2 separate regions of the Homo sapiens genome follow, and region 1 is linked to region 2. A link means that fine-mapping ties the variant in region 2 to the plasma level of a protein whose gene starts in the linked region. Region 2 holds a variant in brackets. A gene starts in the other region. All regions are shown on their reverse strands.

The links. PIP is the posterior inclusion probability: the model's chance that the variant is causal. The UK Biobank Pharma Proteomics Project read protein levels with antibody pairs (Olink). The fine-mapping took linkage between variants from a reference panel, not from the people measured, so its PIPs are less certain.
Region 1: it holds the start of LGALS3, and the variant in region 2 is fine-mapped to the plasma level of the LGALS3 protein (UK Biobank, PIP 0.92).

What each region holds. Positions count from the first base shown.
Region 1 is chr14:55,124,340-55,132,473 of GRCh38, reverse strand. LGALS3 (galectin 3) reads right to left here and starts at 3,222. Exons shown (of 6, transcript NM_002306.4): 1 at 3,174-3,222. LOC124903319 reads right to left here. Exons shown (of 3, transcript XM_047432036.1): 3 at 7,007-7,424. The coding sequence ends at 7,370. RefSeq lists an enhancer at 2,387-2,576 and a silencer at 2,927-3,526.
Region 2 is chr19:5,839,987-5,846,277 of GRCh38, reverse strand. It overlaps FUT3 (fucosyltransferase 3 (Lewis blood group)), which reads left to right. Exons shown (of 3, transcript NM_001382750.2): 3 at 1,427-3,390. The coding sequence starts at 1,439. The coding sequence ends at 2,524. Among named protein-coding and RNA genes, the nearest start is that of FUT6, 3.4 kb to the right of the region's middle. The variant C/T (reference allele first, on the strand shown) is at 1,640.

The sequences.
Region 1 (8,134 bases), not on the chromosome of region 2:
TTGCCTGAAATTTTTTTCTTTTTTCTTTTCAGATGAGTAGTTTACAGAGAGAGACATACAATCAAATGTCACAAATCTTCCCACTCTACAGACACTATAGATATGTGAACCCCACCCTGGTGTTTCCAGGATCAGAGAATTTTGAACAGTCAGAGGGGAAAAAAAAAAAACTTCAAAAAATAAACTAAAAGTAGAGAAATACTAGCTGGGTCTCCACATTTGTAAACACCTACAGTAAGCAGTTCAGTGTAGCTTCAGAATAAGGAATTTAAACATGAGTTAGAATACAGACCATTTTAATCGGCTGTTAATTGGTAGCTTTTCCCTTTAACAAAGAGTAGCTATCCGCTGCACTATGCTATTCTAGGCCCACCCAGCAATCAGTCCAGTTGTCTGGGTTCCCAGGAACACTTCTGAAATGTCTGCTCATAAAGGTCCCTGACCTGTGCGCAACCGTCACAGAAGAAGACTACTTCCTGAGCCCCTAGGCACTGCCCTACACTGCTCCTCAAGTAACACAAGAGGCAGTCTACTTCCTGTCCTTGCTGAAACACAGAGCAGGACTTGAGGAAAGCCCATTTGCCAAAGACAAATTCAGTGATGCTAAGTTGGAATAAGGGGAACTGGTCCTTTCCTAGGATTTCTTTCTCATCATAGCTCCCTGGCATCAAGGAAGGTAGAGTTACTTTCTGCTTCTCATGACTGATCTTCCCCCCTACGGAAAAGCTGAACAGTTCAAAAGAGAACACATGACACTTGGTCAATAGCGAACTGGAAGTATACAGCAAGCACAGCCTAGACTGGTTCTTAAGTTACCCACTCAGAATTTAATGAGAAGATCCAGTTCAGGCACCAGACACAAGGAGCTACCCTTGAGTGGGAGCCTGTGTCCCAAACGATCACAGGAAAGAAGAGCTATGTTTGAGATCAGTTACCACAAGTATCAAGTACATAAGTTTACAAGCCACTTGGCATTTAAGGTCAACACGAGATTCTGAAGGCATACTACATGAACAAAGGTCTTGGCTGCAGTTAAGGTTTAGAGTCTGGCTAATGAGGGTTCTATGTAAAAAGGTACCTAAATTATACATGAGACCAGCATTAGCCTCTTGACCTCACTAAGTGAAAAGTCTTTGTAAAGCACCTATGCATATTTGTAGTACAGCGAACTATCATAGTTTAAAGACCGCTTAACAGAGCGAGACACCTATTCTACTTGGACACAGCTAGTTTTCGGGGTCAATCCATCAGGCGGTACTCGTCCTCTTCTGCTTCTTACGTAACTTAGTGAGGCATCCTCCTAGCACTTCTAAGTGCTAAATATTCAAGGACCATCATCAAACTTCTCCCCAGAATCTGGACTAAGTGCTGATTTTAAACATCACCTCTAAATATTATGAATTTAGGAAGTTGCTTAAGTCCCCCAAAGATCAAGGATGGGGTATGATCATCTTTAGAATGAGAGACCCTACCCTAAGGATTGAGAGTCAATGTCTAAAAGGGAGACTATTGTTGTAGAAAAGTAAATGATCATTATTCAACTTTACCTTTTATGGAAACACACAATTTCCTAGTATGAAATGTTTATAAACTTGAGGTAGGCCAGGCGCAGTGGCCCACGCCTATAATCCCAGCACTTTAGGAGGCCGAGGCAGGCGGGTCACCTGAGGTCGGGGGTTCGAGACCAGCCTGACCAACATGGAGGGACCCCCCCCCCCCCACCACCACCACCACGAAAAATACAAAATTAGCCGGGCATGGTGGCGCATGCCTGTAATCCCAGCTACTCGGGAGGCTGAGGCAGGAGAATCGCTTGAACCCGGTAGGCAGAGGTTGCGGTGAGCCGAGATAGTGCCGTTGCACTCCAGCCTGGGCAACAAGAGCGAAACTGCGTCTCAAAAAAAAAAAAAACCTTAGGTAAACAAATCAGAACTTTGGAAGCTGACGAAAGCTTTTTCTTCTCAGGCCCTGTGCCCAAGTAGTTAATTGTATCAGTCTCATTTTCTTCAGAATTAACTGAGCCTTCTCCCATTTCTTCCCCAGAATCCTAGAGACAGCCTGAGTCACTGAGGTCCAGGTGTCCTCATTGCGCAGCAACCCAATTCCCAGAGTCACTTTACAAACATTCCGCAGTCTCTGGAACCCGCATGGCGAACTTGAAGGGTAAGGCTGAAACCTAAGTCCCAGCCTCCACCATGCGTCCCCGACTCCCTGGACCTGAACGCCTACTGCTCAGAGGGCAATCGTTTTAGTGTTTCTATTTGAGCACCCGATAATTCAGAATAAACTCTCAAACATGTTGTGAAAGCCCCCCGGTAGGGCTCTGCACGCTAGGACCAACATTTTGCCACACCCACCATTTCCTGGGCACAGACAGTCTGGGCAGGGAGGGGCATTTGATTCGGAAAAGCTTAGAGTTTGCAGTCTTTGCAAAGCCGGGTCATGCCCACTCAGGCCATGGGGCAAGCACCATTTTCTGTGGGATCAGCAACCAGACAGCGGCTGCAGCCCGGCCGCAGCTGGTCCCGGTGGAAGAACTCATTCGCGCTCCACAGCGAGATCTCCTCCAAGTCCAGCCTCAGCTGATGCTCAAAAGGGGCCGGGCCAGCCAAGCTGTGGGTCCCGGGAGGCGCCCTATGCAGTCCTGGGAAGTCCCTTCGCTCCCCCGCGGCCGTGATCTGGGGAAGGGTGACGGGGCTCCAACCCCAATTAGAGAAACTGGAGCGGCCGTCTGGTTTGCTGAGCGAGCCCCTCCGCCTCCCCTCGCAGCGGGACCTGGTGGGACTGGGGTGACCAGACTGCGGCTCGTCACCGGATGGGGCTTACTCTGGGGCCGCAGAGCGCAGGCGGCGGAGGTGCGACGGCGGCGAAGCCCACGAGGCTCCGCAGAAGGTGGCCCGTGCCGCCCCGGGGACGTGTGTGGGTCTCGTAAGGTGCTGCCAACCTTCCCCGAACGCCAGCGCCCTCGATAATCAAAGGCGACTGCCCCGGGCCCAGATCGCTGCCCGCCGCCCCGCTCCTGGAGGGCAGAGCACAGGCTGTGGGGCTCTCCGCGCGCGCCCCGGCCCGGTCCCGGGGAGCCGAACCCTCTCCGGACCGCGCCCCAAGCAGCGCCCGGGCGCCCTCTCCCCTGCCCGGCCGGAGCCGCGTCCCCCGCGCCCCGCGCAGCTCACCGCTCGTTGGCTGGCTCCGGACGGCTGCTGGCGAGGAGGTGCTGCGGGCGCCGGCGGGGCGGTGGCTCCGAGCCTCAAATACTCCCAGCCCCGCCCGGCCCGCCTCTCCCGAGGCGGGGCGGCGCCCCTGCCCAGCCAGTCCTCTCCCCGGACCAGGCTGGGCGAGCCCCGCGCCGGCCAGACACCCCGAGCCGCCGCCGCAGGGGCGACCAGGAAGCTCCCGACGGGGAGAGCGCGGGCACTGAGGGGCGCGACCTCCGCTGCCACCGTTAGGTTCCGTGGCGCTCCCGGGACCTGGGCTGCGGCCGCGTCTGTCCCCCGCCCTCTCCAGAATCACCTGAGTGAAGAATTCGCTGAGAGGAATTCAATTAATAGGTTGCTTTATTTGTAGAATACAAAACCAAAAATCTTTTCAATGTCTATTCCCTAGGGAACTGACTACAAATTGACTACTTATTCTAGATCAATAGGCCTAGTCTCAAAGCAATTCCCTTATAAAGCAATTAATCAGACAACTCTTTAACACATTTTACACAGGAAATTCACATTATATATATATATACCCTCCTTTTAACTTCACCTTATCTTTTTGTTGGAAGAAAGAGATAAGTATTATTATCTCATTTTTACTGTCAGGGTGCTATAGTCTGAATGTTTATATCCCGCCAAAGTTCATATGTTGAAATCCTAACCCTCACGGTGATGTATTAGGAAGTGGAGGCCTTGGGAAGTGATTAGGTCATAGGGGCAGGGTCCTTATGAATGAGATTGGTGCCCTAATAAAAGAGGCCGGAGAGAGACCCCTTGCCACTTCCACCTTGTGAAGACACAGCCAGAAGGCTCCCTCTGTGAACCAGAAAGCAGGCCCTCACCAGACATCAAATCTGCTGGCCTGGATCTTGGATTTCCCGACCTTCAGAACTGTGGGAAATAAATGTATATTGCCTATAAGCTACCCAGTTTATGATATTTTGTTACAGAAGCCCAAACAGACTAAAAGAGAAAATGATTTACTTATCCAAGCTCACTCATGTCTAGGAACAAAATCCAGAAATCCTGGCTCTTACACTTTACCTGGAAAAGCACCAGGCCAAAGAATCCTTGCAGGTTGGAACAAGGATCTCTGAGGAAAAAAAAAAAAATTAAGGGGGGTAGGGGAAGAATCTTTGCAGGGACTGGCTTATGTAAACTATGGAGAAAACCAGGTATCATCTGGTTCCTAAATAATTCCTGTAGCCCTTATAGTAACCAATTAATAACATAAAGATAAATTATTTCCTGCAGTTTTTCAACTTAGGGAAATGTTCCTGTGAAGGACTCACTTGATGGAATTGAGAAGCTGTCTTGGCATTCTCTAGGATAAACTTGAAAGTGTCTTAGTGGTTGGCACGGTTCCTGCAACATCGTCCCCTCTAGGCTTGCACATAGAAGTCACAGTGTGGCTGGGGATTATTTATGCAAGTTTGAACTCTTATCTGAAGAGGTAGCCTGGCAACCAATTTATTTGAATGGATCACCCATAGTAAATGACTAACCTCTGGGTAGTAAAAAGGTATCACCCAAAGGAATGCCCTTGGTCTCCAGGGAAAATGCTATAAATCTTAAGACTTTGAGTCATGAGGCCTCATGGCCAGGAGTGGTACCCTTAGAGGGTTAGCCATTGGTAATAAGAAAAGTAGATAGCCAAATGAATTGCTGTGGAGGCAAGGGATGAATCACACTCTTGCCTTTTCTTCTGGTCATTTCAGAGATAGACAAAGTTCATGCCCTGGCTACTTAGGGGGCTTGCTTACACCTGATTGTATGATCAGACATGCTTTTGGCTTCCCTTCCTTACTTGTACATCCCCATGAATACTTTGGTGCCAACTTCATGCCCCATAAAGCTAACAAAAGGATCCTGCTATGATCAGGGTGTGCCTGGGAATTTATAATTTGTACACATGCAATAAACGGCTCTTTATTACCCAATCCAAAGTCACATCCCTTTTCTAAGATAAGCGTAAAAAGGAACCCAATAAAATCAATTAAGATATCATTGAGTAACTTCTATGTACAGCTCACTGTGTTATTTGAAATAGGGACAAGGCAAGTGTTAGCCCTCAAACAAAAAGGCTGTCTGGTTTCTACGGATGCAGAGATTGTAAGCCGCTGATAAAAGCAAGGATTCTAAGAGAGGCATCTCCACAGGAGGGAAAGGAGGAAACTTGGGAAAGCAGGTGGCTGTCCAGAAGGTCAGGAGGGAAGCTGCGTGAGAACTTCAGTTAGAGCCAGAAGAGAGTAGGAGATGAAGATGAGAACAAAAAGGGAAAGTCTTTAAGGATAAGCAGAAAAGAGAAAGAAAGACAGTAATTGGAGAAGAAAGCAGAGCCGATTATTTATTTATTTATTTTATTTTTTTGAGACGGAGTTTTGCTCGGCTCACCGCAACCTCCACTCCCAGGTTCAAGTGATTCTCCTCCTGCCTCAGCCTCCCCAGTAGCTGGGATTACAGGCATGCACCACCACCCTGGCCAATTTTTAGTAGAGATGGGGTTTCTCCACGTTGGTCAGGCTAGTCTCAAACTCCCTACCTCAGGTGATCTGCCCACCTCAGCCTCCCAAAGTGCTGGGATTACAGGCGTGAGCCACTGCGCCCGGCAGCAAAGCCAGTTTTTTAAAGTCACCTTTTAAATAGGAAAATAGAACCAGAGAGAAAGGAAAAAGAGAGGAGAATAGAAGAATTATGAAAATATAAAAAGTGAGTGAACCTGGAACAAGCCAGAAAAGAGGAGAGAAATTTCCCAGAAATTAGCACTACAGTGGGCCAGATAGGGAAAGAATGTCTCACAAAAGCTGAAGTTCCTATGAAATATAAACAAAAATCTTGGTATTAAGTCGTGTAGACAGCAGAATACAGGAACAGCCAGAAAAGAGCAAAGCGGCTGCTTTCCAGTTTTCACATTTGGACCCTGGGCAGCCCAGGCAAGTTTGGCAATTCTGTGTCTACATGGTGTTAACACATCTGGGTGACAAGTGAAGAGTTGAGTCAGGCCTCAGGGCACTTGGTCTTTCTGGTGCCAACAACTGGAATCTGGGTGGCTGGCAGACTTAGGGACTGAAAGAGAGGCTGAGTGTTCTGGGGAACCATTTATGCCTTGAAGACAAAGTAATTTCCAGTTTCAGAACGAAATGACTGTGGCTGTCTGCTGTTTCTAGTCCCAGTTATCTATATGTACTTACTCATATCCAAGGCCTTTAGTGGGGGCCTAATATATGCCTCAACTATTTTGCAAAATCCACCCCTTCTAGCTTGCTGAATGAACAGGCTCACCAAAACCTGGTCAACAAATGAAATAGGGTTGGTGGCAGTAATGTGCCCAATGATGGTTTACAAGGTCTTACCACCTGGGTTGCAACTAGAGCCCCCTGGGACAGAGTGAGAGCCAGAACCTGCTTAGAAGGGAGCTAGCCCCTCCTGCCTTGGATGGGCAGGCCAACAGCATCAGGGAGAAGAGGTGTCCCAGGTGCCACCGCAGGTGCAAAACCCCTTCTCCAGCCCAACCTCAGCCCTGGCCACCTCAGCCTAACCTTCCTTGTTTGTCCTTCAAGCCTAACCCAGGCCTGTCTTCAGCACTAGCCATCACCAAACCCACATTCCCACCAGTCACTTCTGTCTATAGACAGGAAGTGGCTGCTGCCACTACTACTGCCCTTATTGCAGCCACACCCAGGGCTACGCTCTTAACCACGCTACAGCATTAACCTGCCTCTTGAGGAAGTATAAAACCAGGGAAAGGGATAGAGAGTGTGCCAGCTTGCTAAGGCTGCCATAACAAAGCACCAGGAACTGAGTAACTTAAATAACAGAAATTTATTTTCTCCCAATTCTGGAGGCCAGAAGTCCAAGATCAGATGTTGGAAGGGTGGGTTTCTTCTGAGGCCTCTCTCCTTGGCTTTTACGTCTCTCTATATCTTCACATGGTCTTTCTTATATGCCTGTCTGTGTCCTAATCTCCTCTTGTTAGAAGGACACATTCGTATTAGATTAAGACCTCATTTTAACTTAATTGCCCCCTTAAAGGCCCTATCTCCAAAAACAGTCACATTCTGACGTATCCGGGGCTCGGATGGTACTGACATAAATGTTTTTGCAAAGAGAGAGGGACACAATTCATCCCATATCAGAGAAGGGCAGGGGAGGAGCTGGCTGTCAGTTCAGCAAGTGTGGTCAGCAGAGATTTCTCCAAGGAGGTGGTATTTGAGCTGAGACCTAAATAAGGAGTAGGGGCAGGCTTGTAAAGATCCGAGAAAGTGGGAATGGCAAGAATAACACTGTGAGTTGCAACAGGGACCTGTGCCAGCATAGACACCCATGGGGCACCTCCTGTCCACTCCTCTCAGAATCCCCTCCCTGCCATCCTCATAAAGTGGCCCGGCAACCGAGCTAGCACTTCATGACCTCTCACCTTAAGTGGAGTTGGGAGAATTGTGGAGTCCTAATTGGGGGCTGGGGGAAGTGGAGAATTGGGCTGGTGGGATCAAGGGAAAGCAAAAAGAGACAGCAGGCTGGGCGCGGTGGCTCACGCCTGTAATCCCAGCACTTTGGGAGGCAGAGATGGGTGGATCGCTTGAGGTCAGGAGTTCGAGAACAGCCTGGCCAACATGGTGAAACCCCATCTCTACTAAAAATACAAAAATTAGCCAGGCATGGTGGCAGGTGCCTGTAGTCCAGCCTGGGCAACAGAGTGAGATTCTGTCTAAAAAAAAAAAAAAAAAAAAAAAGGCAGATAAGCTATAAGTCTGCCTTTCTTCATGGTCCAGGACACATAGCCCTCTTGCGCAAATAACTCACAATCTGCCTGCTCCCAGCTCTCTCTAGACCCTTGGCTGATAGAAAAAATGCACGTTAGCTCACTGCAACCTTGGCATCATCAGTACTACACAAAACTCTTCAGCACGCAGCACGAGCTCCATCCTATA
Region 2 (6,291 bases):
GGGTTCACGCCATTCTCCTGCCTCAGCCTCCCCAGTAGTAGCTGGGACAACAGGCGCCCGCCATCACGCTTGGCTAATTTTTTGTATTTTTAGTAGAGACGGGGTTTTACCATGTTAGCCAGGATGGTCTCGATCTCCTGACCTTGGGATCTGCCCACCTCAGCCTCCCAAAGTGCTGGGATTACAGGTGTGAGCCACCGAGCCCAGCCTTTTATTTTATTTTTTTAAGACAAGGTCTTGCTCCATCACCCAGGCTGGGGTTAAGTGGCATGATCACAGCTTGCTGCAGCCTCAAACTTCCAGACTAAAGCAATTCCCCCAAGTAGCTGGGACTACAGGCGCATGCCACCTTGCCCGGCAAATTTTTGTATTTTTAGTAGAGTTGGGATTTTGCCATGTTGCCCAGGCTGGTCTTTTTTTAAAAAAATTATTTATTTATTTATTTTTGAGATGGAATCTTGCTCTGTCACCCAGGCTGGAGTGCAGTGGCATGATCTCAGCTTACTGCAACCTCTGCCTCCCAGGTTCAAGTGATTCTCATGCCTCAGCCTCCCGAGCAGCTGGGATTACAGGCATGAGCCACCACACTCGGCTTATTTTTGTATTTTTGGTAGAAACAGGGTTTCACCATGTTGGCCAGGCTGGTCTCAAACTCCTGACCTCAAGTGATCCACCTGCCTCAGCCTCCCAAAGTGCTGGGATTACAGGCATGAGCCACCAAACCCGGCTATTATTTATTTATTTATTTTTGAGACACAATCTCCCTCTGTCACCCAGGCTGGAATGCAGTGGTGTCATCTTGGCTCACTGCAACCTCCGCCTCCTGGGTTCAAGTGATTCTCGTGCCTCAGCCTCCCAAGTAGCTGGGACTACAGGTGTGCACCACCACACCCAGCTAATTTTTGTATTTTTAGTAGAAATGGGGTTTCATCATGTTGGCCAGGCTGGTCTTAAATTCCTGACCTCAGGTGATCTGCTCACCTCGGCCTCCCAAAGTGCTGGGACTACAGGTGTGAGCCACTCTGCTCGGCCGGTCAGCTCATATATTACCTGCAAAACCCAGTCCCATTGTACCTTTCTCTGGCTGAGTCATGGATTCAAGCCTTGCCTCAGTGACATGGGAAGCAATGATGACCGGCTATGCCTTCTCCCCTGCCTCCAGGGCACTTGTATTTCAGTAGACTGGGGAAGACTTCGGGGATTCCAGGAAAGGTCTTGTCTAATAGGTAGAAGGAAGTGGACTCTGGGACAAGGTCCCTTTGTTCAAACACCAGCTGTGCTGATTTTTGCTGTGAGTCACTTGGTCTCAGTTTTCTCATCTGTGAAACAGGAATAATAGCAGCTCCTCTCAGGACTCATGGCCCGGAGCTTTGGTAAGCAGGAGATTGTCATCAATGACCCTCACTCCTCTCTCCTCTCTTCCCAGATACTCTGACCCATGGATCCCCTGGGTGCAGCCAAGCCACAATGGCCATGGCGCCGCTGTCTGGCCGCACTGCTATTTCAGCTGCTGGTGGCTGTGTGTTTCTTCTCCTACCTGCGTGTGTCCCGAGACGATGCCACTGGATCCCCTAGGGCTCCCAGTGGGTCCTCCCGACAGGACACCACTCCCACCCGCCCCACCCTCCTGATCCTGCTA[C/T]GGACATGGCCTTTCCACATCCCTGTGGCTCTGTCCCGCTGTTCAGAGATGGTGCCCGGCACAGCCGACTGCCACATCACTGCCGACCGCAAGGTGTACCCACAGGCAGACATGGTCATCGTGCACCACTGGGATATCATGTCCAACCCTAAGTCACGCCTCCCACCTTCCCCGAGGCCGCAGGGGCAGCGCTGGATCTGGTTCAACTTGGAGCCACCCCCTAACTGCCAGCACCTGGAAGCCCTGGACAGATACTTCAATCTCACCATGTCCTACCGCAGCGACTCCGACATCTTCACGCCCTACGGCTGGCTGGAGCCGTGGTCCGGCCAGCCTGCCCACCCACCGCTCAACCTCTCGGCCAAGACCGAGCTGGTGGCCTGGGCGGTGTCCAACTGGAAGCCGGACTCAGCCAGGGTGCGCTACTACCAGAGCCTGCAGGCTCATCTCAAGGTGGACGTGTACGGACGCTCCCACAAGCCCCTGCCCAAGGGGACCATGATGGAGACGCTGTCCCGGTACAAGTTCTACCTGGCCTTCGAGAACTCCTTGCACCCCGACTACATCACCGAGAAGCTGTGGAGGAACGCCCTGGAGGCCTGGGCCGTGCCCGTGGTGCTGGGCCCCAGCAGAAGCAACTACGAGAGGTTCCTGCCACCCGACGCCTTCATCCACGTGGACGACTTCCAGAGCCCCAAGGACCTGGCCCGGTACCTGCAGGAGCTGGACAAGGACCACGCCCGCTACCTGAGCTACTTTCGCTGGCGGGAGACGCTGCGGCCTCGCTCCTTCAGCTGGGCACTGGATTTCTGCAAGGCCTGCTGGAAACTGCAGCAGGAATCCAGGTACCAGACGGTGCGCAGCATAGCGGCTTGGTTCACCTGAGAGGCCGGCATGGTGCCTGGGCTGCCGGGAACCTCATCTGCCTGGGGCCTCACCTGCTGGAGTCCTTTGTGGCCAACCCTCTCTCTTACCTGGGACCTCACACGCTGGGCTTCACGGCTGCCAGGAGCCTCTCCCCTCCAGAAGACTTGCCTGCTAGGGACCTCGCCTGCTGGGGACCTCGCCTGTTGGGGACCTCACCTGCTGGGGACCTCACCTGCTGGGGACCTTGGCTGCTGGAGGCTGCACCTACTGAGGATGTCGGCGGTCGGGGACTTTACCTGCTGGGACCTGCTCCCAGAGACCTTGCCACACTGAATCTCACCTGCTGGGGACCTCACCCTGGAGGGCCCTGGGCCCTGGGGAACTGGCTTACTTGGGGCCCCACCCGGGAGTGATGGTTCTGGCTGATTTGTTTGTGATGTTGTTAGCCGCCTGTGAGGGGTGCAGAGAGATCATCACGGCACGGTTTCCAGATGTAATACTGCAAGGAAAAATGATGACGTGTCTCCTCACTCTAGAGGGGTTGGTCCCATGGGTTAAGAGCTCACCCCAGGTTCTCACCTCAGGGGTTAAGAGCTCAGAGTTCAGACAGGTCCAAGTTCAAGCCCAGGACCACCACTTATAGGGTACAGGTGGGATCGACTGTAAATGAGGACTTCTGGAACATTCCAAATATTCTGGGGTTGAGGGAAATTGCTGCTGTCTACAAAATGCCAAGGGTGGACAGGCGCTGTGGCTCACGCCTGTAATCCCAGCACTTTGGGAGGCTGAGGTAGGAGGATTGATTGAGGCCAAGAGTTAAAGACCAGCCTGGTCAATATAGCAAGACCACGTCTCTAAATAAAAAATAATAGGCCGGCCAGGCACGGTGGCTCACGCCTGTAATCTCAGCACTTTGGGAGGCCGAGGAGGGTGGATCACGAGGTCAGGAGATCGAGACCATCCTGGCTAACACGGTGAAACCCCGTCTCTACTAAAAATACAAAAAATTAGCCAGGTGTCATGGCGGGTGCCTGTGGTCCCAGCTGCTCCAGAGGCTGAGGCAGGAGGATGGCGTGAACCCAGGAGGTGGAGCTTGCAGTGAGCTGAGATGGCGCCACTGCACTCCGGTTTGGGCGACACAGTGAGACTCCATCTCAAAAATAACAATAATAATAGGCCAGGTGCAATGGGTCACGCCTGTAATCTCAGCACTTTAGGAGGTGGAGGCGGGCAGATCACCTGAGGTCAGGAGTTGGAGACCAGCCTGGCCAACATGGTGAAACCCCGTCTCTACTAAAAATACAAAAATTAGCCTGGCGTGGTGACATGCGCCTGTAATCCCAGCTACTTGGGAGGCTGAGGTACGAGAATCACTTGAACCCAGGAGGTGGAGGTTGCAGTGAGCCAAGATTGCACCACTGCATTCTAGCCTGGGTGACAGAGCAAGACTCCGTCTCAAAAAAAATATATATATATAAAATAAAATAAAGTAAAATAAAATTGCCAGGGGAGACCAAGACGTGGGTGGTGGTGGTGAATCCCAGGTGCTCTCTGAGCCTCAGTTTCCCCATCTGTACAGTGGAGGTGCAGAGGTGCCTGTGATGCCTCCCTGAGGCCCAGGTGGGAGGGTGGAGGGGCATAGGGTGGGGAGGGTGTGGGGGGCCTGAAGAGTCTCTACCAAACCCTCTGGTGACCCCGGGCCTGAGCCAGCCTTGCTGGGCCCATCACTCACCTGCCACCCACACCACACACCTGGGCCCCTCTCCCCACCACCTGGCTGCAAGCCACGGGTCCTGGGAGGGGGACGGGGCCCTCGGCAGGCCAGGCCAGGGCTTCCTAACAGGCTGGGGCAGGCCCAGTCCCCAGGGGGTAAGAGGTGTGGGGACAGGCTGCTCTGTCCTCTGACGCCCCTGGAGCCCCTGTGGTCTCCGCCTCTACCTCAGCTGATGTCAGAGTGAAGAGCTCCCTTTCCCAACTTCTCTTTCTCTGCCTCTGGAATTTCCTCTGAGGCTTAGAGGGACATGGAAACCCTCCCTGGGTCCCACGAGGGCAGAGGCCCAGCCACCTGGCCGATGTTGGGGGGCTCTGGCCTGCCCCCTCTGGAACCCCAGCACTGCCCTCAAACCCCCATTGCCTCCCTGTATGCCCCGGATCTCACATGTGGTTCATGGCACGCCCAGCCCGTGGGGCCTTCTCCCTCCTCCTGGGCACCAGCTGCCCTTGGCTCCCAGCCCTGGGCCCCAGGGGGAGAAAAATTTCCAGCAGGCTGGCAGCTCCATCTCCCACCCAGCCCTGGCCAGGGAAGGCACTGGAGGGTCCAATGAGGGCCAAGACCCCAACGAGGTGCACAGATGGCCTAACTGCCCCTGCAAGCCTCAAGCAGGTCCTAGCTTGCCCTGAGCCTGAGGGAAGAGGTCCTCATGATACCCTACTCTGGGCTCTGGGCTCAGCTCCTTGGCAGGGAGGTCCCACCTGGCACTGGTATGGTGAGCCCTGCTCAGAGAGGACCAGGAAACCTCTCAAGTCACACAGCAGTTTCAGGATGAGCACACGTTCTCTCTGGCACCATCCCTGAGGTCAGCCCAAGGTCCTCCACCCTCCCTTTGCCCAGCGATCACATCGATGGAATGACTAGAGCCCTACTGTCCCTCACTAGAGACCTACCTTTGGATTTTGAATCCTTAAGAAACAACCCAGCTGGGGGCGGGGCGTGGTGGCTCACGCCTGTAATCCCAGCACTTTGGGAGGCCGAGGCGGGCGGATCACAAGGTCAGGAGATCGAGACCATCCTGGCTAACATGTCTCTACTAAAAATACAAAAAAAAAAAAAAAAATTAGCTGGGCGTGATGGCGGACGCCTGTAGTCCCAGCTACTTGGGGCAGGAGAATGGCGTGAACCCAGGAGGCAGAGCTTGCCATGAGCCGAGATCGTGCCACTGCACTCCAGCCTGGGCCACAGAGCGAGACTCTGTCTCAAAAAAAAAAAAGAAAAAAAACCCAGCTGGGCGGAGTGGCTCATGCCTGGCCTCTAATCCCAGTACTTTAGGAGGCTGAGGCAGACAGATCACCTGAAGTCAGGAGGTCAAGATCAGCCTGGCTAACATGGCGAAAACCAGCTCTATTAAAAAAATACGAAAGTTACCCAGTGCCGTGTCACGCGCCTGTAGTCCCAGCTACTCGGGAGGCTGGGGCATGAGAATCGCTTGAGCCCGGGAGGCATAGGTTACAGTAAACTGAGACTGTGCCACTGCACTCCAGCCCGAGTGACAGAGCAAGATTCCATCTCAAAAAAAAGAGAGAGATAGGGGTATCTCTGTTTTCCCTAGGCTGGTCTCAGACTCCTGGGCTCAAGCGATCTTCCTGCCTCTCCTTCCCAAACTGTTGGGATTACAGGTGTGAGTCACTGTGCATGGCCTCAGAAGTCTTTTTTTTTTTTTTTTTTTTTTTTGAGACAGAGTCTTGCACTGTCGCCCAGGCTGGAGTGCAGTGGCTCAATCTAGGCTCACTGCAAGCTCCGCCTCCCGGGTTCACACCATTCTCCTGCCTCAGCCTCCCAAGTAGCTGGGACTACAGGCACCCACTACCACGCCTGGCTAATTTTTTTGTATTTTTAGTAGAGACAGGGTTTCACCATGTTAGTCAGGATGGATGGTCTTGATCTTCTGATCTCGTGATCTGCCCACCTCGGCCTCCCAAAGTGTTGGGATTACAGGCGTGAGCCACCACGCCCGGCCCCCAGAAGTCATTTTTTTAATAAGTTACAGTCAACCTCACCAGTCAAGGAA